Homo sapiens: one gene and its partners. The protein of the gene in region 2 purifies or fractionates together with the protein of the main gene of each other region. This does not show direct contact. Each region holds a gene or a part of one and is shown on either strand. Other genes may lie near its edges.

Region 1 (3,500 bases), on a different chromosome or scaffold from region 2:
AGTCTACCAGATGTCAACAAAAGGCTAGGAAAAGTAACTGATAATATAACACAGTTCAATGCTGTCATTATCAGATTATCTACATCTTCCCTATTTCCCTACATATCTAGAAATTGACAAGTGGAATTGAACTTGCAGGAGCCAGATGTGATTAAAGAATCTGAAGAGTAAATAGTGCCCTGCTTGCAGACAGATTTATTTCCATCATTGTACAAGTCAGAGCAACTCTAATTTGTAGGACTGGGGTGGATCACAGCTGTGCATTAAAACTCAACCAAGTTCTATGAGAGAATGATGGTGCACAGCCACTATCATTCTTGATGAATTCATTGTGTACGGAAGGTGCCTTAGGGCTTAACTTTCTATTGGAGTCCAGTTGAGAAGCTAGGAAATGCTTAATGCTCAGTAAGGAACTGTGTGTTAGTTCATTGGACTAGAACCAGAAGTCCTTTTGAACAGTGACCAAGCACTAAGATTTCTATACGAAGGCAGTTTAGGAAATACTACACAAGAAGCACTGGAAGTAGCCTAGCAGTCTAACAGTGAAAGAACGGTTAAGTACGTGAGAGTAGATCCTGTTGGTGAAGGATGTAGTCATTGTAAATTATGGTTTTTTTTAAGTTTCAGCGTTATAAATCTTCATTCTTTGACTTATGCTGTGCAAATTATTTAATCTTTAATACCTAAATCACAATGGCAGGAATAAAAAGATGTTACGTTTAAACCATTAAACACTTAGAAGGTGCTCAGTAAATGGTGAATATATGTTTATTACCATGTATCAAATGAAAAAATAATTTGTTAAATTGTTTCAATGGAGGCTGCAAAATTATGTATATATGCCATGATTACAAACCTTTTTCTTTTTAGAGACAGGATCTTCCTCTGTCACCCAGGCTCATATGCAGTGGCATGATCATGGCTTACTGCAGCTTCAAACTCCTGGGCTCAAGCAATCCTTTCACCTCAGCCTCCCAAGTAACTGGGACTACAGGCACATGTCACCTTGACTGCTAATTTTTTTTTTTTAATTTATTGTAGAGACAGGGTCTTGCTCTGTTGCACAGGCTGGTCTCAAACTCCTGGCCTCAAGCCGTCCTCCCACCTTGGCCTCCCAAAGTGCTGGCATTACAGGCATGAGCCACCACACCTGGCCTACAAATATATATTTGTATATTATATGTATTTTGGATGTGTATATACACATATACACAAATAAGAAAAGACAAAAGAGAATGCTTTTGTCTTTTCTTATTTTGACACTCTAATGCCAGCCATGGCTGTTAAAGAATGATTTTAATAAAATACACTGTACTTGTTCACTGGCTCTATTTATTTACCATCTTTTGTTCCCCCAGAAAATTGATATGTTGACATTAAAATGCCATGTTTGTAGAGAAATTAAGTTGTAGTTGTTGGCACATGTTTAGTATGCATAATCACAGAGTTAACTTTAGCTTTGAATTTAATTTAATTTTCTTAAACAGCAAAAAATGAAAATTGCCTGGGGAGTTACTTAAAGAAATACAGGATTGAGAATGAAAAGTTTCTCCTACAAGGATTAGAAAGCGTGTTGCTATGAAGTAGTGATAAAACATTCATCTACAATGCCTTTTCCCTTAATTTTAACAGCGGAAACATCTTGGAAATATATTTATTTTTCAATTAGGCCAAAATACCTTACCTCAAAGATAACCTCTCACTTTAAAAGTCATATTCCTGTGATTTGCATGTGAGTAAAAACCATCATATTTTAGTGGGCTTCAGGAAGCTCTTAAATTTTAAAACATGGGCCAAATCTCAGGTAAGCTATATTCATTAATAGTACATAAATTTCTTGAGAATTACATGTTTCTTAGTTGTTCTGGGAAGTGCACTGGTACTGGCAGGCTGCTAGGCCCTGCAGCATGCTGTGTAGTTGAAGATTTTATGCTGTTTCTCACATGAATTTTACCTAAGCACAAAGTTGCCAGAGTATGTAGACTTAAAGCAGGGTAGGATTCTTAGCCTCTCCCTGGTACTGAGACACAAAAAGTACCTCTTATAGCTCGATTTTTTTTAAGTCCCAACTCTTCCCTTTTAACCACTCTCCCTTGTTCTGAAAATCAGATCAGTCACTTTGAAAGTTCTAAGAACCTTTTCCCTTGGTTGAGTACTGACCTGGGTTGTCCATCATTAGTAACACCCTCCCAGTGGAGTAGGTTTGGTTTTGGCCTGGCACAGGAAAATTAAGACATATTTTAGTTCCTGTAACAGCAGCTTCCCAGGCACACAGGTTCCTGTTGAATGTTACTTTTCCCTTAAAGAGTCCTTCAGTATGAGATGTGAACATCAGCAACTTGGTGATAAGTAGACCAATCCCCACGAATTGCTTTCATTTACTGTATTTAAGTGTTTCCTGCTAAAAGTTGAGAAAATAAGAAAATAGATGACTTTGTAAAACCAAATTAGATAATTTAGAAAACCACTTGGAGATAAAAAAAATTATATATTTGGGGCTGGTAAACGGAGTAGTGTGACAGACACATTTGTTTTGTTTAGATCATGCAGTGGTGTGCCCATCTGTGCCTTTGATCCACTCAGATTAAACCAAGACCACGTTTCAGATTTTAGTTCCCGCGGATATTTTCCATGGCTATGCCTTTTTTTTTTTTTTTTTTTTTTTTTTGAGACAGAGTCTCACTCTGTTTCCCAGGCTGGAGTGCAGTGGCATGATCTCGGCTTACTGCAGCCTCCGCCTCCTGGGTTCAAGCGATTCTCATGCGTCAGCCTCCGGAGTAGCTGGGATTACAGGCGCATGCCATCATCCTCAGCTAATGTTTGTATTTTTAATAGAGACGGGGTTTCACCATGTTGGCCAGGCTGGTCTCAAACTCCTGACTTCAAGTGATCCTTCCACCTTGGCTGACCTCAAGTGATACTTCCACCTCGGCCTCCCAAAGTGTTGGGAATATAGGCATGAGGCACCAGGCCCAGCCAGGCTATGCCTTTTTAAAATAAACTTACAGAAAGCTATTTTTATTTGACAGTAAGTGATTAATTTCTTCAGCATGCACATAGGAAAATATGGTGAAAATTTACATGTGGTTGATAAGAAAGCTAGCTTTTATTGACAATCACTTAGAACAGGGGTCCCCAGTCCCTGCGCTACAGACTGGTACTGGTCCATGGCCTGTTAGGAACAGGGCCTCACAGCAGGAGGTGAGAGCAGCAGGCAAGCCAAGCATTACCACCTAAGCGAGCTCCACCTCCTGTCAGATCATCAGGGGCATTAGATTCTCATAGGAGCACAAACCCTAGTCTGAACTGCAGGTGTGAGGGGCTAGTTTGTGCACTCCTTATGAGAATGATGCCTGATGATCTGTCACTGTCTCTCATCACCCCTAGATGGGGCCATCTAGTTGCAGAAAAACAAGCTCAGGGCTCCCACTGATTGTATATTTTGATGAGTTATATAATTATTTCATTATATATTACAATGTAATAATAGAAATAAAGTG
Region 2 (3,500 bases):
AATCAAAATGTTTACTTAGTCAGGTGCAGTGGCTCATGCCTGTAATCCCACCACTTTGGGAGGCTGAGGCTGGAGGATCCCTTAAGGCCAAAAGTTCAAGAGATTAATCTGGGCAACAAAGTGAGAACCCTGTCTCTATAAAAAATTTACAAATTAGTTGAGCATGGTGGCATGCACCTGTAGTCGTGGCTACTGGAAAGGTTGAGGCAGAAGGATTGCTTGAGCCCAGGAATTGGAGGTTGCAGTGAGCCATGATTGCACTCCAGCCTGGGGTGACAGAGCTAGACACAGTCTCAAAAAAAAAAAAAAAAAAAGTTTACCCAAAGCACAATTTCTCAAGACATCATACTCTTACATAGTAGATGAGATACTTAATCCTAATCTTTTCATAGCCTTTCATAGTTTTAAATGAAGAGCACAAAACCAAGTTAGTATGCAGTACATATGAATGTCCTAAACATCTTCATAGCTGTATCTTTATAATTTCTGGCTCATCGTTGCTATATTTATTGATATTTTCTTACAAAAATCTTTCATTTACTGGATTTTTATTTTCTTTATCCTCATCTATAAATTGAAGGCATTAACCTCAGAATACTTAAGTTTAAAATGAAATATAAAATCACATGGAAAGCGAGAAAGCTAAAAACAATGGTCTGTGCACAAGGCTTTTCATCACTTCTGAGCATTTGAGAAATCTCTTCAGTCTATTTGGTAACACTACAAAACTTGAGAATGAAAGCACACCTCAAATCTTTGGGTGTTTACCAGCCATTGTTCCACAGTGTTATAATCCTTATGGTTACAAAGTATATACAATTCAAACTGTTATTAATTTGATTTTGTTAACTCAGTTTACACAGCTCTGAATTTTAACTACACAAAGATAAGCAAATATTTTGGGATAAATTCATGAGCACTGAGTGCGCTGATATAAGCAAGAGGTTCTCAGTGTGAAAACCACTCCCATTTATTCAACGAATATTTACTGAGAACCTGTGATTCAGACAGCAGGCTGGTTGGAGTGTCCTCTTATCCACATTTTATTAAAGCTTTGTTCCCAAAGGTTGTGGATTGAGATGAATTCCTCTAACAAATGTCTCCTGCCTTGAGGAAGTAACAATTTTTAGGGTTGAGGGGATTAAACCCTCGAGTCTTCGGTATGTTTTGTAAAGATAGAATAACAGTGTGAAAAAATTTCCTAATACATGTCTCAAAACATTTTATAGGTTAGACATTAATAGCTCTGCAATAGTTATTTACTGAGCAATAATTAGAATAGAGCAATTGGAATTCTATGCATGATTATTCTTTAGGATGCTGAAATGCTACCAAAAGCTTAACAGAGCAAAGCACAGGGTGATTCTTGGCATTGATGTATGTGCTCAGTTTTACTCCGTATTGGAGAGAGCAAGTTTCAAGGATTTTGAGCAGGAGACAGAGATGTCACTGTCCAGATTAGCACTCTGGACTTGCCCACCTGGCTGTGCTTGTAGCTGGCAGCTGCGCAGCACTTGGTGAGGCTACCCTGCTAGCTACATCATCAGACATCACACTGTGGTGCTCACTTAGCCCCAAAAAGGCAGTGAGGCAAATAAAGGGATTAAATTGTGAAAGTATAATGTAATAATTAGAGCAGTAATTGTAAGGAAGATTGGAACGGCCCCTCCTTTCTGTGGCCAAATACGGTAGTGATAGCAGTTGAACTCCAAAGATGTTGAGTGTGGCCCAGACTCTTATTCCAATGCTGAAGCTGCCTTAGAGTTCATTCTCATGCCTTCAGACAGCATTGCAGCCAAACCACCCTTAACAGATCGTAGTCTCTCCCTCCCCTCCATTAAAGCTCTCCAAGGAAAAGGAAGAGATTATGTAACTCCCCTTGACAACAAGCCTTGCTAGACTAGAGCCCCAATGGACAGGCCGTTACATAAATGTGACTCCTGCCTCACCAGGGCCTGGTTCTACTCTCATTGACTTAAGGGACGTGTGCATCCATAGGCATTTTCATGTACACCATCATCTGTTAAGATCTTTCCTTTTTAATATATCTTCTTATTATTTTTGAGACAGGGTCTCACTGTGTTGCCCAGGCTGTTGTACAGTGATGTGATCTTGGCTCACTGCAGCCTCCACCTCCTGGGCTCAAGTGATCCCTTCCCCTCAGCCTCCCAAGTAGCTGGAAAACAGGCATGCACTACCATGCCTACCTAATTTTTCACTCTTTTGTAGAGACGGGATCTCCCTATGTTGCCCAGGCTGGTCTCAAACTCCTAGCCTCAAATGATCCTCCTGCCTCAGCCTCCCAAAGTGCTGGGATTACAGGCATGAGCCATCTTACTTCTTATTTTAACAATTTATTTTTAGGATTGGTTATCGAGTGTGTAATAAATATATACGTTTAAAAAGTTGGGAAAAATACTTCTTAAACTTGGCACCAAAAGAACATATATCCAGACCATATCTTGAGAAAAGTAATACAAATTGTTCTTTTCAGAGCTGAATGTGCTATTTCTGTTGTGAAAGACAATTAATCATGGATTTCAATGAAAGGTAAATAGAAAGGAATATTTTACTTGTTGACTATTTTCAAGTTATCATTGAAAAACTATTGAATTATGTCAGCATTTAGTTGGGTAGAAGCCAAAGTTTTGCTGTTTTGTTTTTGTTTTTGGCTGACCAAAATACTTTTTACAAAACTTTGACAGCTCTACCCTGTCATCCAATAGGGTTACAGTGGCAGCAGTGATTTCACGTCATTTTCTAGGCATAGTAATTTTGGGGATGTGATATTGTTATTCTTCTGATTTTTTTTCCAATTCCAATTTTGGCCTTAATTCATAAATGATTGGAGTCTGCCTTCTTTCCCTCCTTCCTTCCTTCCTTCTTTCTTTCCTTCCTTCCTTCTTTTCTTTTCTTTTTTTTTGGGAACTTCTCATTAAGAGTTTCCCCTAGACTCTTGTTAAGGAGGCAAGAGAAGGAAAACATCCTTATACCCAAGTATAAGTAATACCCAAGTATTACATATTTCATTATTTAATAGACAAAACACTAGCCTCCTGAAGTTTTTATGTCCATATAATAAAGAAAATAATTTTATAAATAGTTTTCTTTGTGTAGATAATATAGCCATTCTAACTCCTCATTATAGTGCTAGAAATAAAGTATTCTTCTTTCCCCCACATTTAAAAGGTGGGAAATTGTATATTTAAAAATATGAGATTTTAAAAAGATGTTCATTATAGCATCGGTTTTGGATTTATATAAAGCCAGGCCCAAGTCTCAGCCACTTACCAGCTGTGAGACCTTAACCCCTCTTTTCCTCTGTTTCCCAAGTGATGAGGGTTACATGAGAGAATGAATATCGAAGTACTTGACCCATAGTAAATGTACACTAAATTATTAACTTTGGTTGATATTGGGAATATGACTGGGATACCCAGAGGCTGGATGGTTCGTGTAATCTAGCACAGAGTTATCCTTGATGCTAAACTAGAAGGACA
Region 3 (4,220 bases), on a different chromosome or scaffold from region 2:
CCTGCCAGTCCCGCGCCGTGCGCCCGCACTTCTCAGCCCTTGGGCGGTCGATGGGACTGGGCGTTAGTGGAGCAGGGAGCGGAGCTCGTTGAGGAGGCTCGGACCGCGCAGAAGCTCACGGCGGGGGCGGGGGCTCAGGCATGGCGGGCTGCAGGTCCCGAGCCCTGCGCCGCGGGGAGGCAGCTAAGGCCCGCTGAGAAATCGAGCACAGCAGCTGCTGCCCCAGGTGCTAAGCCCCTCACTGCCCGGGGCTTGCGGGCCGGCCGGCCGCTCCAAGTGCGGGGCCGCCGAGCCCACGCCCACCCGGGACTCGCGCTGGCCCGCAAGCCCCGCGGGCAGCCCCGGTTCCCGCCCGCGCCTCTCCCTCCACACCTCCCAGTAAGCTGAGGGAGCCGACTCCGGCCTTGGCCAGCCCAGAAAGGGGCTCCCACAGTGCAGCGGCGGGCTGAAGGGCTCCTCAAGCGCGGCCAGAGTGGGCGCCAAGGCCGAGGAGGCGCCGACAGCGAGCGAGGGCAGCCAGCATGCTGTCACGTATCACTAGCACTTTGGGACTACAGAGGCAGGAGGATAGTTTGTGCTCAGGAGTTCGAGACCAGCCTGGGAAACAGGGTGACACCTCCTCTCTAAAAATAAACATTTAAAAATTAACGTGGCATGGTGGTGCGCTGTCTGTAGTCACAGCTACTCCGAAGGCTGAGACAGGAGGATCACTTGAGCCTGGGAGGTGGAGGCTGCAGTGACCTGTGATCGAGCCACCGCCTTGCAGCCTGGATGACAGAGAGAGACCCTGTCTCAAATACAACAAAAAAGCAGGCCGGGCGCAGCGGCTCACGCCTGTAATCCCTAGCACTTTGGGAGGCCAAGGCGGGAAGATCACTTGAAGTCAGGAGTTCAAGACCAGCCTGGCCAACATGGTGTAACTCCCTCTTTACTAAAAATACAAAAATTAGCGGCATGGTGGCGCGCGCCTGTAATCCCAGGTACTCGGGAGGCTGAGGCAGGAGAATCGCTTGAACCCAGGAGGCGGAGATTGCAGTGAGCCGAAGCGCCACTGCACTCCAGCCTGGGCGACAGAGGAGACTCTGTTTCAAAAAAAAAAAAAGTTAAAAACAAAACCTTCCATGGAGCCCATGAAAGGCTGGAATTTGGCTTGATCTCATTGGCTTTTGGTTTCACCACAAATTGATCATCCAACAACTTTCATTCCAACAACCGAGGGTGGTGTGAGGCAGAGAGGCTTTCTACGGGGTGGGTTGGGCGCCACACCTTGCGCGCCCCGGGGCCCAAGGAGACGACCCTGAAGAGGAGCCTGGCTACTTTTGCCTCAGACGAGTCCGGAGCGCCGGGTTAACCGGTCTGAAGTCCCAGGGGCTTTCTGGGACTGCTCAGCCACCGGCAGCTTCCGGCACCAGGGGACGCCGGACGCCGTCCGGACATTCGGCGCGCTTGCCACGATCTTGGACGGGTCTCGGGCCTCGACCTTTGAATTCCCCGCTCCGGCTCCAAGATGTCAGCAACGCTGATCCTGGAGCCCCCAGGCCGCTGCTGCTGGAACGAGCCGGTGCGCATTGCCGTGCGCGGCCTGGCCCCGGAGCAGCGGGTTACGCTGCGCGCGTCCCTGCGCGACGAGAAGGGCGCGCTCTTCCGGGCCCACGCGCGCTACTGCGCCGACGCCCGCGGCGAGCTGGACCTGGAGCGCGCACCCGCGCTGGGCGGCAGCTTCGCGGGACTCGAGCCCATGGGGCTGCTCTGGGCCCTGGAACCCGAGAAGCCTTTTTGGCGCTTCCTGAAGCGGGACGTACAGATTCCTTTTGTCGTGGAGTTGGAGGTGCTGGACGGCCACGACCCCGAGCCTGGACGGCTGCTGTGCCAGGCGCAGCACGAGCGCCACTTCCTCCCGCCAGGGGTGCGGCGCCAGTCGGTGCGAGCGGGCCGGGTGCGCGCCACGCTCTTCCTGCCGCCAGGTGAGCCAGGCTGCTGGCGGGTGGTGTGAGCGTCAGTGGCCTGAGTCTCCGTTTGTTTCCAGTGCTGATTTAGCACTGGTTTGGTTTTGGAGCAAGATCAGAGAAGCTAACATTGACTATGTCAGTGGCCACTCTACCAAAATAGAGGGTTTGGTACCGGGCGTGGTGACTAACGCCTGTAATCCCAGCACTTTGGGAGGCCGAGATGGGCGGATCACTTGAGATCAGGAGTTTGAGACCAGACTGGCCAGCATGGTGAAACGCTGACTCTACCGAAAATACAAAAATTAGTCCAGCCTGGTGGCACACGCCTGTAGTCCCAGCCACTCGGGAGGCTGAGGCACGAGAATCGCTTGAACCTGGGAGATGGAGGTTGCAGTGAGCCGAGATCGCACCACTGCACTCCAGCCTGGGTGACAGAGCGAGACTCCGTCTCAAAAAAAGAAAAAAGAAAAAAAAGGATTTTTTGTTAGGCTGTGTACTACGGTTTTTACTTGCATTCTATCAGTTAGTCTCTATAATATCCCAATGAAGTTGGTATTGTTATTCTGCAGATGAAAAAACAGGTTCAGGTCGTCAGGTACATTATCCACTTTGCTATTAATCACTACCCTACAGATTTCTACAGGCATCAGCCTGACTTGTCTAAGGCAGAATGATGACAGTGAATGAAGCTATTACCATGTCGTCTTCTCTAGTGTTCTAGGCACACTGTCTCTTCTCCACTTCTTCATGTGCTGCTTTATCACAGGTCACACTTCAGACTCCACTGCCTTTCTCACCTAAAACCATCTCTGGGTATTTCTTTTTCTTTCCTCCCTTTCTACATAGACATCTGAAATATCAGTACACTAAAAACCAGAGGGCTGATGCAACAGAACATAAAGTTTTGTTTCAATCTTTTTTCTTTTCTTTCTTTCTTTTTTTTTTTTTTTTTTTTGAGACAGTGTCTGTCTCTGTTGCCCACGCTGGAGTGCAGTGGTGTGGTCACACCTCACTGCAGCCTTGACCTCTGGGGCTCAAGTGATCCTCCCTCCATTGCCTCCCAAGTAGCTAGGACTACAGGCATACACCACCACACTGACTAATTAAAAAAAAAAAAAGATTGTAGAGATGGGGTCTCACTACATTGTCCAGGCTGGTCTTGAACTCCTGGCCTCAAGCAATCCTCCTGCCTTGGCCTCCTAAAGTGCTGAGATTACAAGCATGAACCACAGTGTCCAGCCAGGAAAGCAAATTCTTTAAATTGTATAATGGCTTACATTTATAATATTTTGTTCTCTAGGACCTGGACCCTTCCCAGGGATCATTGACATCTTTGGTATTGGAGGGGGCCTCTTGGAATATCGAGCCAGCCTCCTTGCTGGCCATGGCTTTGCCACGTTGGCTCTAGCTTATTATAACTTTGAAGATCTCCCCAATAACATGGACAACATATCCCTGGAGTACTTCGAAGAAGCCGTATGCTACATGCTTCAACATCCCCAGGTTCTCCTCATGTCCTTTATTTAATCAGTCTCTCTAGAAATATTTCCATAGAGAGTGTAACCTTTACCACGTGCAGAAATGCTGCTCTGTTCCTCTTTCACAAAGATGTCTTCTGGAGACTTCCTTGGCTTAAGGTGCTATTTCCACTTTTTCTGTCAGATGAATTTGTGATATAGAATTAATTGTAAAATCCACATGAGATTTTATTTAGTAATATTAAATATTATCTGTATATTGCAAATTGAATTTCTAATCTACTGTCTTTGCATGCTTGTTTTTAAATTTTAATTTCCTGGTGTCAGAGTATGTTCTCAGATTTTGGTCAGAACTTGTCCACCCCTTTCAGAAGCCAAGAACAAACTTACTTACTCTGAAGTCTTGCTTTGTAATCATTTGCCAATACATATGGCAAATGATCTGATGAATGATTCACATCTTGAAACAACCTGGTTCCACACTATTGGATGCATTGCCACATGAAGACTTCAGTCAGACCTACCTGAATGTGGCCCTGAACTTGATGGGATCTGTGGCTCAGCGGCTCAGCGGCTCAGCATTCTCTAGTGGATAATTCTCTGAAATGCTTATAACCAGTTTCCAAGTTTTTCAGTGATTTTAAGATGTGTTTGCCATGTGTTCAGCCAGATATTCTGCACATGGGAAGAAACTCCCCTGTCAGCTGAGGTTGATTTTCTTGTGGATGATTCCCAGATTAAAGCTAGCAGCATCTCTGTTTGCATTTTAGAAAAATGTTTTTGCATTGGATAA
Region 4 (4,031 bases), on a different chromosome or scaffold from region 2:
GTAGATAATCAGAGACATAAATTTTACTATACGAGGTAGGTCAATGGTCTGCCTTCCACCCGTGGACTAGTTTTCTGCAATATCTTTCTTAAATTTTTGACACAAGACCATTGTGAGTGAAATGGTGTTGTAGCGCAGTGTGTCAGGTATTGATTTCATGCTGGGGTGGGCCTGTGTTGTCCCGGTTCTGAATTACAGCAGTGTATCACATCTGCTTGCACCACTCCCAGTTCAGCTCTGACTGCATAATAGTCATGGAGCTGGGATTTACCAATCTCTTCAAGTTAATTAGAAATGGAAAATCAGCATGGTCACAGAGGAAAAAATAAATAAGATGGCGATGCTCCAAGGATGTGGGGATTCTCCCCATAGGAGTTGTCAGGTCAACTGCTCCCACTGAGGTCCGATGCCTGGGGGTACATGGGAGCCGAAGGGGGGTTGTGTCAGGAACTCCCTTCTCATCTCACCGTCCCAACTTACTATGTGAAATTATCCAATTTCTACCTTCAAATTGAAAAACTGTCCTTTAATTCTCTCTCTCACCACAGGAGTCCTAAAGACTATACATTCCAACTCAGCAACTATTTCATACAGCCTCCTTAGAAAATGATGGGGGTGGACACCCCACTTGAGGAAAATCCATTCTTTATAGACAGCATCCCATGTGGCACTTTATGGGTTAAACTTGTGTTGCAGAGAAGCGGTATCAAGTGGCTTTCCAGGAGATAACCCCCATTTAAAAACTGCCATCTCTAAAAGGTGAGCCAAATGCCCATGAGTTTAAACTGCTTTGTATGAAAGGAACAACCCAGTGTGTTTGAGTTTGCTTCTGTCTCAGTGTCTGTCATCTATGCAACCGATTATCAGGATGAAGACTGTCAATCACGGTTAATAAAAACCTCAGAACACGACACAGATCTCTTTTACTATAGATGTATTTGATGATAGCCTCACTTTATTATGTCACATAAATCAAAAGGGAAGCATTTATCTCATCATTCGGAGGCACCCCTTCTCTCCCTGTGTCCTCACCCCTCCCCCCGTACCAGTTCTCAGTCCCTCAAAGATGCTTTGTGCAAGAAAGTGCAAGTTTCCCGTTCTGGCTTCATTTTTGTTCCCTTTTGCGATCCTCCTGGCTCCCCCCCAAACCAAGCTAGCAAAGCAATGGCCCCGGTTCCCCCCCAACGCCTGACCTGCGTTTACTGGGAGGAGAGCGGGAGAGGGAGCGCGCATTCTGGAGCAGGCTGCTTTGACTCCGACCACAGGCTGTTTTGTGCAGGCTGTCCCTCTTCTTCAAAATCGTGCATCCCCTCCCCGAAGCAGCAGGCAGTGTGCCTCCATTCAGCCACATTTGGTATGCATGAGCACGGCTGCAGAGAGAGGGGAGGTGGCTGTTTTAAGAAGGTTCAGGGGCTCAGGCAAGGCTACTTGACTAGTCTTCCAAGTTCCAGGAAGCCTCTGCCCTAATGGAATTTGCAGGTGTGGAGATGACCATGGGATGCCAGAGCCGTGGGGGACCGTTTATTTTCTAGGCATTGCTCAGGTTTTCAGTTTCTTGTTTTCCTGGTGGAATTTGGAAGGGGTCATGAATCAGGCTGATGCTCCTCGACCCCTAAACTGGACCATCCGGAAGCTGTGCCACGCAGCCTTTCTTCCATCTGTCAGACTTCTGAAGGTACTGTAACTTGCAGCTTTGAATGGCGCTAATTGTGCTTTTTAGATTTAAATACCCAACTTGGGGACTTGGGCTGGGACGCACCTTTGGGGGAGCCTAAATGCATGCAGTACTGGCTCTGTGGTCCGTGGCTGGAGAGAGGTTCTCAGTACTCCTGCCCTCCCCCCACGCCCCCCACCCACACCCCGTGGTGTCAGAGACAAGAGGCTGGTGCGAACCACACTCGAGAAGGAGATTTTGGTCTCAGAGAATGGGCTACCTGGTGCTCCCCCACCCCTTTTAACCATTCCTAAAACAGAATTAATTAACTTCTTTGGGAGGGTGGGAATAGTAGTGGGAGTGAAATCTCTTACTCCCTTGTGTTTGGCTCCTGGGCTTTTCTTTCTCTCTCCCTGGGGAAGCCCTTCGACCCACTTTCCCTTTAAATGGAACCAGAGAGAACAAAGGATTCTCCTCATTAGTTTAAAAGCTTTGTGTAGTTAGGTGGCCAGTCAGGTGAAGATGAACAAAGAATGAGCCTCCTCAGACAGTGACTTTTTTTGTGTCCTTGTTTTTAGAAAAGGCATAAAAATGTGAGTCTCCTGAGTGGAATCAGTAGTGGGAAAGTATTGTTAAACATATATTGAATGTCAGCTCTCTCTCTAGCTGTGAGTCACACAAAAGAATGGCACTACACCTGAGCAGGAATTGCCACCGTGTGTCTGCAGCGCTTCTCTTTCCAGAAGCAAATGCATTAAAGATACTGAAAAAGTCCATACAACTCTGTACTAATCCACCTTCATGATCTTTCTTGTAGGGGGGAAAACACAAATTAGATTTAAAGGTGCAGGAAACAAGCATTTTTGCCCAGTAAATAGAAGGTGGTAATACTTAATAGGGAAAAATAAATATCTCTGATGTTCTATATCCATTCGAAGTTAAAAAAGGCAAAGTTCTTAATTCTCTTTTCCTGAGTATGTATGCTCTTTTGATTTAGTGACCACAGAGCATTGAGTCCAGTGGGCTACAATGGAGAATTAATGAATTAGCCCTGAATACGTTACACTTGGAGAATTTTGTTCTGAGGATGTGTTCTGGTTAGGTAAGATTTGATGGGGACAGTTAGTTCCATACAGCTAAGTGGTGCCTCACAACAGAGTATTACCCCTTGCCTGAGTTTTCCTTTTCTTGTTAAACACCAACTGGTATTAACTTTCAACAAAGGCTGCCCCAAGTGCTGTTCAAACTCCCATCATATGGTTGTCATGGCGATGGCTTGCTTCCCTAGGGACTATTTAGGAGGAAAGGCAGGTTTGGGTATGGGTAGTAGAAGAGACTTTTCCTTGGATATGTGTGTTTTTGCTGTGTTGTAACAACATGTGTGATAGGGCAAGAAAAAGAATGAGGCCAGAGAATTAACAAATTGGTGTACATTTTCTCCAGAATCACTAGTGAATCAAGAGTCAGGGGCAAAGAATGGGCATATCTAAGTCTCCCTGAAAGAATTCAACTCCAGTAATTCGAAGTGCAATGAGAAACATTTTTTCAGTTAAAGTCATGTATCAGCTTTAACCCAAAATAATGCTTTTTAACTCTTCTTGACAGATAGGTGACTATCACTCTCCATATATGATTAATTAATATGCTAGTTTTTTTTTAAATGGAGAATGTTATTCATTTACTAGTCACAAAACCAGCAGAGAAGTACCTACCTGAGGTACTTCTTTTAGAAGAAGCTCTGTCTTTTTAGGAGAGTGAGTTCTGTCATCTTTTTTAACTGAAAGTGCTGTCCATACTTTCAGGAGACATTGTTAATGCTACAGCCATACTTTCATTGGCATACAGCTCAATCTTACCATCCTTTATTAAAGTGATGCTTTGTAATAATTTATTGAATAAAGTGCATTACTGTGTGTCCTTCCCATTTTTTCAATATCTAAAAGACAGGATGGAACCTTACTGGAGAACTTTTTTCCCAAATGACATCTGTATTTTTGAAAGATCATAGCTATCTTCTGAGACTTCAGATATTGAGCACATTTCAAACTCTTAAAAAAATAAAGTCATACCAAGTTCTTTCAGCAATACTTAGAAAGAAAGCAAAGCTGCTTTGGTATATGAGCAATTGTATTGTCCACTCTCTGGCTGTGAATGCTATGTATTTTTTTCCTATGGATTGTTGTATGTTTCTCCTATGGATTCCTGTGTTTGCTTTGCTAGTTCCTATGTATTCTTGCCATTTTATCTTTTGAGTAAAATGTAAGTTCATGAATAATAATTTGCATGTTTTGGTAAATGCTCTTCCTGGCTTAATCTAGAAATGAAATATTTAATAACAGTATTTCTTATGTCCTTTCCTTTCTTTCTCCTCCCTCCC
Region 5 (3,500 bases), on a different chromosome or scaffold from region 2:
AAGGAAGGTACAGAGATTTGCCATATACCCTTGCCCCCAACATGCATAGCCTCCCCCATTATTAATATTCCCCACCAGAGTTGTAGATTTGTTATAATTGATGAACCTACATTGACACATCATTGCCACCCCAGAGTCTGTAGTTTACATTAGGGTTCACTCCGTGGGTTTGGACAAATCTGTAATGACAGGTATCTACCATGGTAACATCACACAGAATAGTCTCACTGCCCTGGAAATCTGCTCTACCTTTTCATTTCTTCTGTCCCCCAACTCCTGACAACCACTGATCTTTTTACCGTTTGTACAGTTTTGCCTTTTCCAGAATGTCATATAGTTGGAATCACGCAGTATGTAGTGTTTTCAGATTGGCTTTTTTTTCACTTGCTGATAGGAATTTAAGGTTCCTCCATGACTTTCATGGCTTGATAGCTTAGCTCTCCGGTATTTTAAAATTAAAGCCTAAACTTAAACCTGATTTCCGAAGGCCTTCGGGTACTTTTAAGTTGGAGAGTTAGGCCCTTGACTTTGTCTTGAGCTGTCTGCTTTTACTTTGGGATCCTGTACCTCCCCAGGAAAACCCTGAATTTTCCTCCTGGAGGCTTAGACTCAGGCTGCCCTTTTCTGTGTCTTCCTTCTCCATTTCCATGATTCATCCTGCGAGCCCCTGCTCACCAGCCACTGTTTTGGCGATGCCCTCTCCCTCACCTCCAAGCCAGCTGTTCCATCTTCTGTGTGGCAGTACGCAGGGCCAGCAGAGCACTGACCTTGGAATCCCCTTACTGGGTTTGAGTCTTGGTTCTGCGATTTGCCAGCTTCGAGGCCTTTGGCGGGTCACATAACCTTTCTGAGCTTCTGTTTCCTGAAGTGAGAAGATATGATGATTAAGATTGTTGTGAAGAGGCCGGGCACAGTGGCTTACGCCTGTAATCCCAGCGCTTTGGGAGGCTGAGGTGGGTGGATCACCTGAGGTCAGGAGTTCGAGACCAGCCTGGCCAACATGATGAAACCGCGTCTCTACTAAAAATACAAAAATTAGCCGGGCATGGTGGCGCATGCCTGTATTCCCAGCTACTTGGGAGGCTGAGGCAGGAGAATCACTTGAACTGGGGAGGTGAAGGTTGCAGTGAGCCAGGATCACACTACTACACTCCAGCTTGGGTGACAGAGTGAGACTCTGTCTCAAAAAAAAGATTGTTGTGAAGAGTCAGTGAAAATCGAATGACAACATGGATTTAAAGCATGTAACACATGCCTGGCACAGAATAAGCACCAAATAATAGATATATCTCTTCATCTATAGATCATATTAAGTGTTAGGACATCACTCCTGGACGTTAAGCTCCACAAAGGCAAGAATTTTCGTTTATTTCATCCACCTTGTTTTTCACCATAATGAATAGATCAGTGCCTGGAATATAACAGACATTTAATCAGTCCTCATTGAATGATTAGGAAATCACTCCTGGACGTTAAGCTCCACAAAGGCAAGGATTTTCGTTCATTTCACCCACCTTTTGTTTTCACCACAGTGAATAGATCCGTGCCTGGAACATAACAGACATTTAATCAATCCTCATTGAGTGAATGAATATGCTAGACTATGAGCCTCTTCAGGGCAGACACTGCTTCTTGTTTTATATCTTCAGTCTGAGTGTTCCTGAGAAGGGATGGAATACAAGTCTGGTGGAATGAACTGGAATGTCCTCTCCCCGCCACCATCCCTGCCATTTTAATGTATTCATAGCCTACCTGAACTTTAAGCCCCCTCTTGAAAGCCTGCCCTCTCTGGAAAGCATTTTTTTTTTTTTGAGATGGCGTCTCACTCTGTCGCCCAGGTTGGAGTGCAGTGGTGCAATCTCGGCTCACTGCAACCTCCCGGGTTCAAGCGATTCTTCTGCCTCAGCCTCCCAAGTAGCTGAGACTACAGGCATGTGCTACCACACCTGGCTAATTTTTATATTTTTAGTAGAGATGGGGTTTCACCATATTGGCCAGGCTGGTCTTGAACTCCTGACCTCGTGATCCGCTCGCCTCGGCCTCCCAAAATGCTGGGATTGCAGGCATGAACCACCGCGTCCAGCCTCTAGAAAGCCTTTGAAGCTAACTTCTTCTGCTTCCACCACCCACGTGGCTTGTGCCACTTACTATCCCATGGTATCTGAGTGTGCTTTTATTCCTACAACTGGATTGAAAGCTCTGGGAGGACAAGAAATTATTTTTATCCTGGACTAGCAGTGTGGTTGCCTAGAAGAGCGTTTTATAGGTTTCAATGTCAGGTTCTCTGAAAGAACTTTGTATTTTAAACATTTGACTATGGAAAATGTCAACTCATACAGAAGTAGACAGTAGAGAGAACAGTATGGTGAATCCCCATCCCTCCATCACCCAGCGTCCACTGTTAAAGACTTGCAGTCACTCTTATTCCATCTCCATGTACAAGACGTCATTTCATCTGTGACTATTTCGTTGTGTATCTGTGAAGAGACTTCTGAGTGCTATTGCATGGATTTCTCCCAATAACTGTGAGACTGGCTTTCCCCATTTTGTAGGTGATGAAACTGAGGTGCAGGGAGGTTAGGTCAGTTGCTCAGGGTCTTGAAGCTAGTGAGCGGCTTACCTGGGATTTGAACCTTGACTGTGAGCAGCTCCCTCTCCTTCCAGGCTTGGGGCAGGGGGCCCTTGGAGATACAGGTACACCTTGCCATTTCCAGAAGAGAGGAAGCTGAGGTCCAGCTGCTTGGCTGGAGGAAGCCCAGGCCCCTGACTCCCTGGCAAGTTCATTTCCAGTGTCAGGTCTTGCGAGGTGCGGTGGGCCTTAGCTCTTGGGGAGGGCCAGGGTGGGTAGTCCTCTGAGAGACACCATTGCCCTGAGTGGCTGGGCTTTGGATGGCCGTGGGACCCTGGGGCAAGGTCTACCACCACCCCTGGACAGACTGCATTTTCTTCCTACTCTTGTCATTCCTAAATCCCAAAGGTCCTCCTTGCAGCTGACCACGAGTTCTCTCATGAGATGCTCAGGACTACCCAGTGAGGGAGAGGGAGCCAAGGGGTCAGCAGCTGGGTTCACAGAGCTCAGAGAGGAGGGGCCTGGCCTGAGGTCACCCAGCTGGCCTGGGCACAGGGTTGACAGGCTCTTGGTGGCATCTGGACCCTTGGGCTCCCACCCTGCTCTTTCCTCAGGATAGAGACCGAATTGCTACCCAGATCTGGAGTAGGAGACCAGAGACGAGACCTGAGAGACTTTCACAAATGGTGGGATAAAGCCATTGATTAACTGTCCCCAAAGGCCTGTGATGACTGTTTGGTGTTTTAGGTAAGAAAACAAACATTTGCCCTAATTGTTTGCTTCAGTGACTGAGAGGGCTGTGAATTCTAGGATGGGGTTCTGCTTGGGCAAAGCCCTGGGAGCTTGGCAGAGAATTTCTTTTGGCCTTCTTTTTCTATCTAGGAAATGGGGACGATAGTAGCATATGCTTTGAAGGCTTTTAGTGAAGAAT
Region 6 (3,500 bases), on a different chromosome or scaffold from region 2:
GCAGGCCTGTAATCCTGGCTACTCAGGAGGCTGAGGCAGGAGAATTGCTTGAACCTGGGAGGCGGAGGTTGCAGTGAACAGAGATTACGCCACTACATTCCAGCCTGGGTGACAGAGGAGACTCCATCTCAAAAAAAAAAAAAGTCTTTTATTTGTTTTACGTGGGTCTTGGGATTATAGTGTTTTCTTCTTTGTGCTCTTCTGTGTTCTTCCAAATGTTTTACACAGAATTTGTGTTACTTTTGTAGTCAAAAAAAGTATTCTTTAATTTTCTAATTTTCAAAATGATTGTTTTTTCTTCCCTGTTAGGTATTAATATAGTAGGGAAATAACACTCAAAACAAGTCAGGAGGCCAGGTGCAGTGGTTCATGCCTGAAATCCTAGAACTTTGGGAGGCTAAGGCAAGAAGATTGCTTGTACCTAGGAGCAGGAGGCGGAGGTTGCGGTAAGGCCACATCATGCCAGTGCACTCCATCCTGGGCAACAAGCCAGACGCTGTCTCAACAAAAAATTTAAAAAGTCAGTAAATTTCTGCCGGGTGCGGTGGCTCACACCTGTAATCCCAGCACTTTAGGAGGCCAAGGTGGGCGGATCATGAGGTCAGGAGATTGAGACCACCTTGGCTAACACGGTGAAACCCCGTCTCTACTAAAAGTGAAAAAAACTAGCCGGGCGTGGTGGCACGTGCCTATAGTCCCAGCTACTCGGGAGGCTGGGGCAGGAGAATCGCTTGAACACAGGAGGTGGAGGTTCCAGTGAGCTGAGATCGTGCCGCTGCACTCCAGCCTGGGCGACAGAGTGAGACTCCGTCTGAAAAAAGAAAAAAAAAAAAAAGGCAGTAAATTTCCAGTGTTTTTTCTTTGAGATGGGGTCTCACTCTGTTGCCCAGGCTGGAGTGCAGTGGCAAGATCTGAGCTCACTGCAACCTCTGCCTCCTTGGTTCAAGTGATCCTCCCACCTCAGCCTCCCAAGTAGCTGGAACTACAGGCACATAGCACCACATTTTTTTTTTTTTTTTTTTTGAGACGGAGTCTCGCTCTGTGGTCAGACTGAAGTATGGTGGCACTATCTCTGCTCACTGCAACCTCTGCCTCCTGCGTTCAAGCGATTCTCCTGCCTCAGCCTCCTGAGTAGCTGGGATTACAGGTGTGCACTACCACCATGCCCTGCTAATTTTTGTATTTTTAGTAGATACGAGGTTTCACCCTGTTGGTCAGGCTGCTCTCGAACTCCTGACCTCGTGATCCACCTGCCTCAGCCTTCCAAAGTGCTGGGATTACAGGTGTGAGCCACCATGCTCAGCCACCTTTTTTTTTTTTTTTTTTTTTAAGATGGAGTCTCACTCTGTAGCCCAGGCTAGAGTGCAGTGGCACGATCTCAGCTCACTGCAACCTCTGCCTCCGGAGTCCCGGTTGGTTCAAGCAGTTCTCCTGCCTCAGCCTCCCAAGTAGCTAGGATTACAGGCACGCATCACCATGCCCAACTAATTTTTGTATTTTTAGTAGAGATGGGGTTTCACCATGTTGGCCAGGCTGGTCTTGAACTCCTGACCTCGTGATCCGTCCGCCTCGGCCTCCCAAAGTGTTGGGATTATAGGCGTGAGCCATCACACTGGGCCTTGTTTTTCTTTTTGTTTTTGTTTTAATTTTTGGTAGAGACGGGGTTTCACCATGTTGCCCAGGCTGGTCTCAAACTCCTGCACTCACGCAATCTGCCTGTCTGGGCCTCCCAAAATGTTGGGATTACAGGCATAAGCCACTGCACCCAGCCAGCTTTCATTCTTACCAATCTATAAGTCATGCAACATAAACTCTACATCATCTCCTCCATTGGGTTGCTTTGAAGTGAAGTACACCTTCGATAGTACAATGAAGTCTTGTGATATATAAAGTACAAAGTTGTGTTTACCGGGTAGACAAGTTAATAATTCATAGACCAGCTTTCCTGGTTGGGGAAGAGTATAATTTAAAGTTGCTGTAAAATAGTAATTTTAACAAACGTATCTACTTATGAGGTTTAGTAGATCATTTCTTTTAGTTAATGAGATTGTTTTTCATGCATATTACTTTTCATTTAGGTAGTCAAACCACACACTCCATTAATAAGGTTTCCTGACAGAAGAGACAATCCTAAACCCAATGGTGAGTTGTATTTTATTTAAATTTCTTTTAAAATTGTGTACATGAATATTTATAAATGAGTATTTTATTATAGGCAATATTTCTCATTTTAAAATCAGTTAAGACTATTGTAGCTTAGATCAAAATAGTGCCTTATGTAGCATGCAAGTAGAAATTAACTTATGGCTGGGAGCGGTGGCTCACGCCTGTCATCCCAGCACTTTGGGAGGCCGAGGCACGCGGATCACCTGAGGTCAGGAGTTCAAGACCAGCCTGGCCAACATGGTGAAACCCTGTCTCTACTAAAAAATACAAAAAATTAGCCAGGCGTGGTGGCGGGCTCCTATAGTCCCAGCTACTCGGGAGGCTGAGGCATAGAATTGCTTGAACCCACGAGGCGGAGGTTGCAGTGAGCTAAGATCATGCCACTGCACTCCAGCCTGGGTGACAGGGCAAGACTTTGTCTCAAAAAAAAAAAAAATTATTACCTCTATTTTATTTTATTTTTTGAGACAGGGTCTTGCTCTGTCGCCCAGGCTGGAGTGCAGTGGTGCTATCTTGGCACACTGCAGTCTCCCCCTCCCGGGTTAAAGCAATTCTCGTGCTTCAGCATCCTTAGTAGCTGGGATTACAGGCATACACTAGCACGCCTGGCTAATTTTTGTATTTTTAGTAGAGACAGGGTTTCACCATGTTGCCTAGGCTGGTCTCGACTCCTGATCTCAGGTGATCTGCCTGCCTCCGCCTCCCAAAGTGCTGGGATTACAGGCATGAGCCACTCACCTGGCCTTTATTACCCCTATTTTAAAAGGTAGTGACTCAACAGAAGATGTCTCTGAATTTCTAGTGAGTTTATATGGGCAAAATTTTGTCCTACCTTTATTCTCTCCTATCCTTTAGAAGATTCTCCCATGCTTACATTTGCAGAGACTGGGAAAATAATAACCATTCCTGTTTCTCTCCTCACCAACCATCTTTTCTTTCATTCATTCATTTATCTATTCATCTAGTCAGTAAATATTTTTTGGATTGCCTTAATCCTTAGCATTTATTCAAAATTAATGGGAGAAGATTCTGAAAGGGTTCTGTTTTTCTCTGATTCCCGCCCTTTTTTAAAAAAACCAGATCCTCTGTGCCTCTCTTGATCTTTAATTCAGGCAATTTTAACACATTTTATAGGTATATTTTTAACTTATTGTAACTATTGAAGAATTAAGATGTTTAAACAAGTGTAAAGATATTGAGAAAACTACCCTCATTTACATTTACTGACTTTCTTATTCCTTATTGTAAGATATTACCTGTAAACTCCACCATGTGTTGGCCTATGAGGGGTTATGTGACATAAGCTTAAGTAGTGTAGGTTCCCCTAAAGGGTT
Region 7 (3,500 bases), on a different chromosome or scaffold from region 2:
AGCAACTGCACCCGGCCTAAATGTTGGATTTTTAATGTGTTCCTTTAAGGAATAGTGATTTCATTATCTTCTGTTATTTTAGGAAAGAGTTTGGGACCAAATAAAGTTTCTTGGGTTACTGTAATTCTCTAGGCAAAATGAAGTACATATGATACTATGAATAAAAAGTTGTGAGACTATAAAAGGGGAGAGCTATATAGAAGGGGGATAGAAAATAGAGTGGATAAAATATTTGTAAGGGGCTGGGCACAGTGGCTCACACCTCTAATCCCAGCATTTTGGGAGGCTGAGACGGGAGGATCAGTTGAACTCAGGAGTTTGAGATCAGCCTGGGCAACATAGTGAGAGCCCCTTTCTTTTTCTTCTTTTGTTCGTTTGTTCTTTCTTTTTTTCTTTACTTTTTTTTTTTTTTTTTTTTGATGGAGTCTTACTCTGTTGCCCAGGCTGGAGTACAGTGGCGCGGTCTTGGCTCACTGCAAACTCTGCCTTCCGGGTTCAAATGATTCTTCCATGTCAGCCTCCCAAGTAGCTAAGACAGGCGCCTGCCACCACGCCTGACTAATTTTTTATTTTTAGTAGAGATGTGGTTTCACCATGTTGGCCAGGTTGGTCTCGAATTCCTGACCTCAAGTGATCACCTGCCTCGGCCTCCCAAAGTGCTGGGATTACAGGTGTGAGCCACCGTGCCCGGCCTTGAGAGCCCATTTCTATAAAAAATTTAAAAACTTAGCTGGGTGGGGTGGTATGCATCTTTAGTCCCTGCTGCTTGTGGGGCTGAGGTGGAAGGATCGCTCAGGAGGTTGAGGCTACAGTGAGCTGTGACTGTGCCGCTGCACTCCAGCCTGGGCAACAAAGTGAGACCTTGTTTCAAAAAATAATAATTCATATGGAGAGTCTTTATTCTCACAACAACAATTTATTGAGTGTTTACTGTGTGCCAGCAGTGCTCTAGTTGCAGGAACTATAGTGGTGAATAAGACCAACAAGGCCACCTGGTGCTTAAGGAGCTTAGACATTTAAACCTGAGGTTCGAGTTGGATTTCCAGGTGAGCATGCCAGGCTAGGGCAGCCTAACCAAAGTCATGATTATCAGTGCACTTGAATGGTTAAGTGGGGCCAGTGCCTTGAGTTTTCAAAAGGAATGGATAGGGCAGATGGAGATAGGGCCAAGTTGCAAAGGTACCTTATTAGTCCGCTAATGGGTTGGGAATTTTCTTCTTTTTGGAGGAAAGAATTCCAGGTAGAATGTGAAGAATGAGATAGGCATTCCTTTTATTTTTATTTATTTATTTTTTTTGAGACAGAGTCTCACTGCGATGCCCAGGCTGGAGTGCAATGGCACAATCTCCGCTCACTGCAATCTCCACCTTCTGGGTTCAAGTGATTCTCCTGCCTCAGCCTCCCGAGTAGTTGGGATTGCAGGCATGTGCCGTCATGCCAGGCTAATTTTTGTATTTGGTAGAGACAGGGTTTCACCATGTTGGCCAGGCTGGTCTCGAACTCCTGACCTCGGGTGATGCACCACCTCGGCCTCCCAAAGTGTTGGGATTATAGGCGGGAGCCACCATGCCTGGCCCTGACATAACTTTTTAAAGATTTTTCTGGGGCTACGTGCAGTGGCTCATGCCTGTAATCCCAGCACGTTGGGAGGCTGAGGCCGGTGGATTGCTTGAGCCCAGGAGACCAGCCTGGGCAACATGGCAGAACCGTCTCTACAGAAAAATTAAAAGATTATCTGGGTGTGGTGGCACACGCCTGTAGTCCCAGCTACTCAGGAGGCTGAAATGGGAGGAGCAGTTGAGCCCAGGGGTTTGTGGCTGCAGTGAGTGGTGATCATGCCACTGCCTGAGACTCTTTCTCAAAAAAAAAAAACAACAAAAATATTTTTCTTTATTATCCTTAAGTTGAGTGAATACAAATTTTTTTTGAGATGGAGTTTTGCCCTTTCACCCAGGCTGAACTGCAGTGTCAGGATATCTGCTCACAGCAACCTCTGCCTCCTGGGTTCAAGTGATTCTCCTGCCTCAGCCTCCCGAGTAGCTGGGATTACAGGCGCGTGCCACCACACCCAGCTAATTTTTTATATTTTTGGTAGAGACGAAGTTTCACCCTGTTGGCCAGGCTGGTCTTGAACTCCTGACCTCAAGTGATCGCCCACCTTGGCCTCCCAAAGTGCTAGGATTACAGAGGTGAGCCACTGAGCCCAGCCCAGTGAATATAAATTTTATTGGTTTTATTTATTTTAGTTTGGTTTATTTATTTTGATTTCTTGGTCATCAGATTAAATAAATCTGATAGTTATTTTTCTTTAGTTGTCAATTTCCAGTCTTGGTTTTGAGTTTGACTGTTGTCATGATACTCTTCTGAATCCTTTTAGCCTTTACCTGTACCTCTTTTCCTTACTTTTTCAGAACTCTTATGATTCCACTTAAAGAAGCAGTGTTTTTTACTTCTGTGTGGGCAGCTTCTCTCAGCAGAAGTGGGATTGATGTTCAGTCAGTCAGTTTTCACACTCAGCCTACAGGGCCTTGTAAAAGTAAGGAGCAGGAGCAGGGTGAAACTAAAAAGTAATCTTGCTTTTTTAAAGTTATCTTTTTTTTTTTTTTTTTGAGACGGAGTTTCGCTCTTGTTGCCCAGGCTGGAGTGCAATGGCGCCATCTCCGCTCACCGCAACCTCCGCCTCCTGGGTTCAAGCGATTCTCCTGCCTCAGCCTCCCGAGTAGCTGGGATTACAGTCATGTGCTGCCACGCCTGCCTAATTTTGTATTTCTAGTAGAGAAGGGGTTTCTCCATGTTAGTCAGGCTGGTCTCAAACTCCCGACCTCAGGTAATCTGCCCGCCTTGGCCTCCCAAAGTGCTGGGATTACAGGTGTGAGCCACTGCGCCCGGCCTAAAGTTCTCTTCTATATTCCTGAACTGCTAGGAGAGGAAACTATGTGATCTATGTGTTATACAGATTTATCGGAACATATTTGTAGCAGCTGATAATAGTAAATGTGATTTTAAAATACTTTAAAGTAGCCAATATAACTGAGATTTGATAAGTTGTTTGATTAGTTGTTAGGAATTTTGGCTTTAATTTACAGTGTTTTAAGTTTTGTTTCTGTTCTCTTTCATGTCTGTTCAAAATAAGGGACCTCATTCCTCTTTGCTCAGACTCTGCCACTTAATAGGTAGATGGTGTAAATTCCTAAATTATTAACTTGACTTTAAATAATTTTAAAACCTACCTAAATGAGTATTTTCTAGTTAAGTGACAATTAATCTAAAGTGGAAATCTATCAGCAGGGACTTAATGCATATGTGGTATTTATACCTGGTTAAATTAAAAACCCATTTACTGAGCATTTACATGCCAGGTGGTAATGGGCACATAAAATAAGCAGTTTGGGGCAGGGCACGGTGGCTCACGCCTGTAATCCCAGCACTTTGGGAGGCCGAGGCGGGCGGATCACCTGAAGTTCGGAGTTTGAGACCAGCCTGACCAACTTGGAGAAACA

The links.
Region 1: the proteins of ESRRG (region 2) and ISCA1 purify together in Homo sapiens (affinity purification with mass spectrometry; one large-scale study listed by BioGRID and IntAct). This does not show direct contact.
Region 3: the proteins of ESRRG (region 2) and ACOT4 purify together in Homo sapiens (affinity purification with mass spectrometry; one large-scale study listed by BioGRID and IntAct). This does not show direct contact.
Region 4: the proteins of ESRRG (region 2) and TRPM3 purify together in Homo sapiens (co-immunoprecipitation; one large-scale study listed by IntAct). This does not show direct contact.
Region 5: the proteins of ESRRG (region 2) and PPARGC1B purify together in Homo sapiens (co-immunoprecipitation; 2 studies listed by BioGRID and IntAct, with this or other methods). This does not show direct contact.
Region 6: the proteins of ESRRG (region 2) and KGD4 purify together in Homo sapiens (co-immunoprecipitation; one large-scale study listed by IntAct). This does not show direct contact.
Region 7: the proteins of ESRRG (region 2) and ARK2N purify together in Homo sapiens (co-immunoprecipitation; one large-scale study listed by IntAct). This does not show direct contact.

The regions. Positions count from the first base shown.
Region 1 is NC_000009.12:86,276,039-86,279,538, reverse strand, and holds part of ISCA1 (iron-sulfur cluster assembly 1 homolog, mitochondrial precursor), read left to right. Parts: exon of another isoform or gene 1-1,322; intron 1,323-3,500. UniProt on the Homo sapiens protein: Involved in the maturation of mitochondrial 4Fe-4S proteins functioning late in the iron-sulfur cluster assembly pathway. Probably involved in the binding of an intermediate of Fe/S cluster assembly.
Region 2 is NC_000001.11:216,671,430-216,674,929, reverse strand, and holds part of ESRRG (estrogen-related receptor gamma), read left to right. Parts: intron 1-3,500. UniProt on the Homo sapiens protein: Orphan receptor that acts as a transcription activator in the absence of bound ligand. Binds specifically to an estrogen response element and activates reporter genes controlled by estrogen response elements.
Region 3 is NC_000014.9:73,590,453-73,594,672, forward strand, and holds the start of ACOT4 (peroxisomal succinyl-coenzyme A thioesterase), read left to right. Parts: upstream 1-1,420; 5' UTR 1,421-1,507; coding exon 1,508-1,964; intron 1,965-3,249; coding exon 3,250-3,452; intron 3,453-4,220.
Region 4 is NC_000009.12:71,118,822-71,122,852, reverse strand, and holds the start of TRPM3 (transient receptor potential cation channel subfamily M member 3), read left to right. Parts: upstream 1-1,231; 5' UTR 1,232-1,498; coding exon 1,499-1,675; intron 1,676-4,031. UniProt on the Homo sapiens protein: Constitutively active, non-selective divalent cation-conducting channel that is permeable to Ca(2+), Mn(2+), and Mg(2+), with a high permeability for Ca(2+).
Region 5 is NC_000005.10:149,736,810-149,740,309, forward strand, and holds part of PPARGC1B (peroxisome proliferator-activated receptor gamma coactivator 1-beta), read left to right. Parts: intron 1-3,500. UniProt on the Homo sapiens protein: Plays a role of stimulator of transcription factors and nuclear receptors activities. Activates transcriptional activity of estrogen receptor alpha, nuclear respiratory factor 1 (NRF1) and glucocorticoid receptor in the presence of glucocorticoids.
Region 6 is NC_000005.10:69,224,260-69,227,759, forward strand, and holds part of KGD4 (alpha-ketoglutarate dehydrogenase component 4), read left to right. Parts: intron 1-2,078; coding exon 2,079-2,142; intron 2,143-3,500. UniProt on the Homo sapiens protein: Molecular adapter that is necessary to form a stable 2-oxoglutarate dehydrogenase enzyme complex (OGDHC). Enables the specific recruitment of E3 subunit to E2 subunit in the 2-oxoglutarate dehydrogenase complex (OGDHC).
Region 7 is NC_000018.10:46,177,034-46,180,533, forward strand, and holds part of ARK2N (protein ARK2N), read left to right. Parts: intron 1-3,500. UniProt on the Homo sapiens protein: AMPK substrate important for exercise capacity and skeletal muscle function.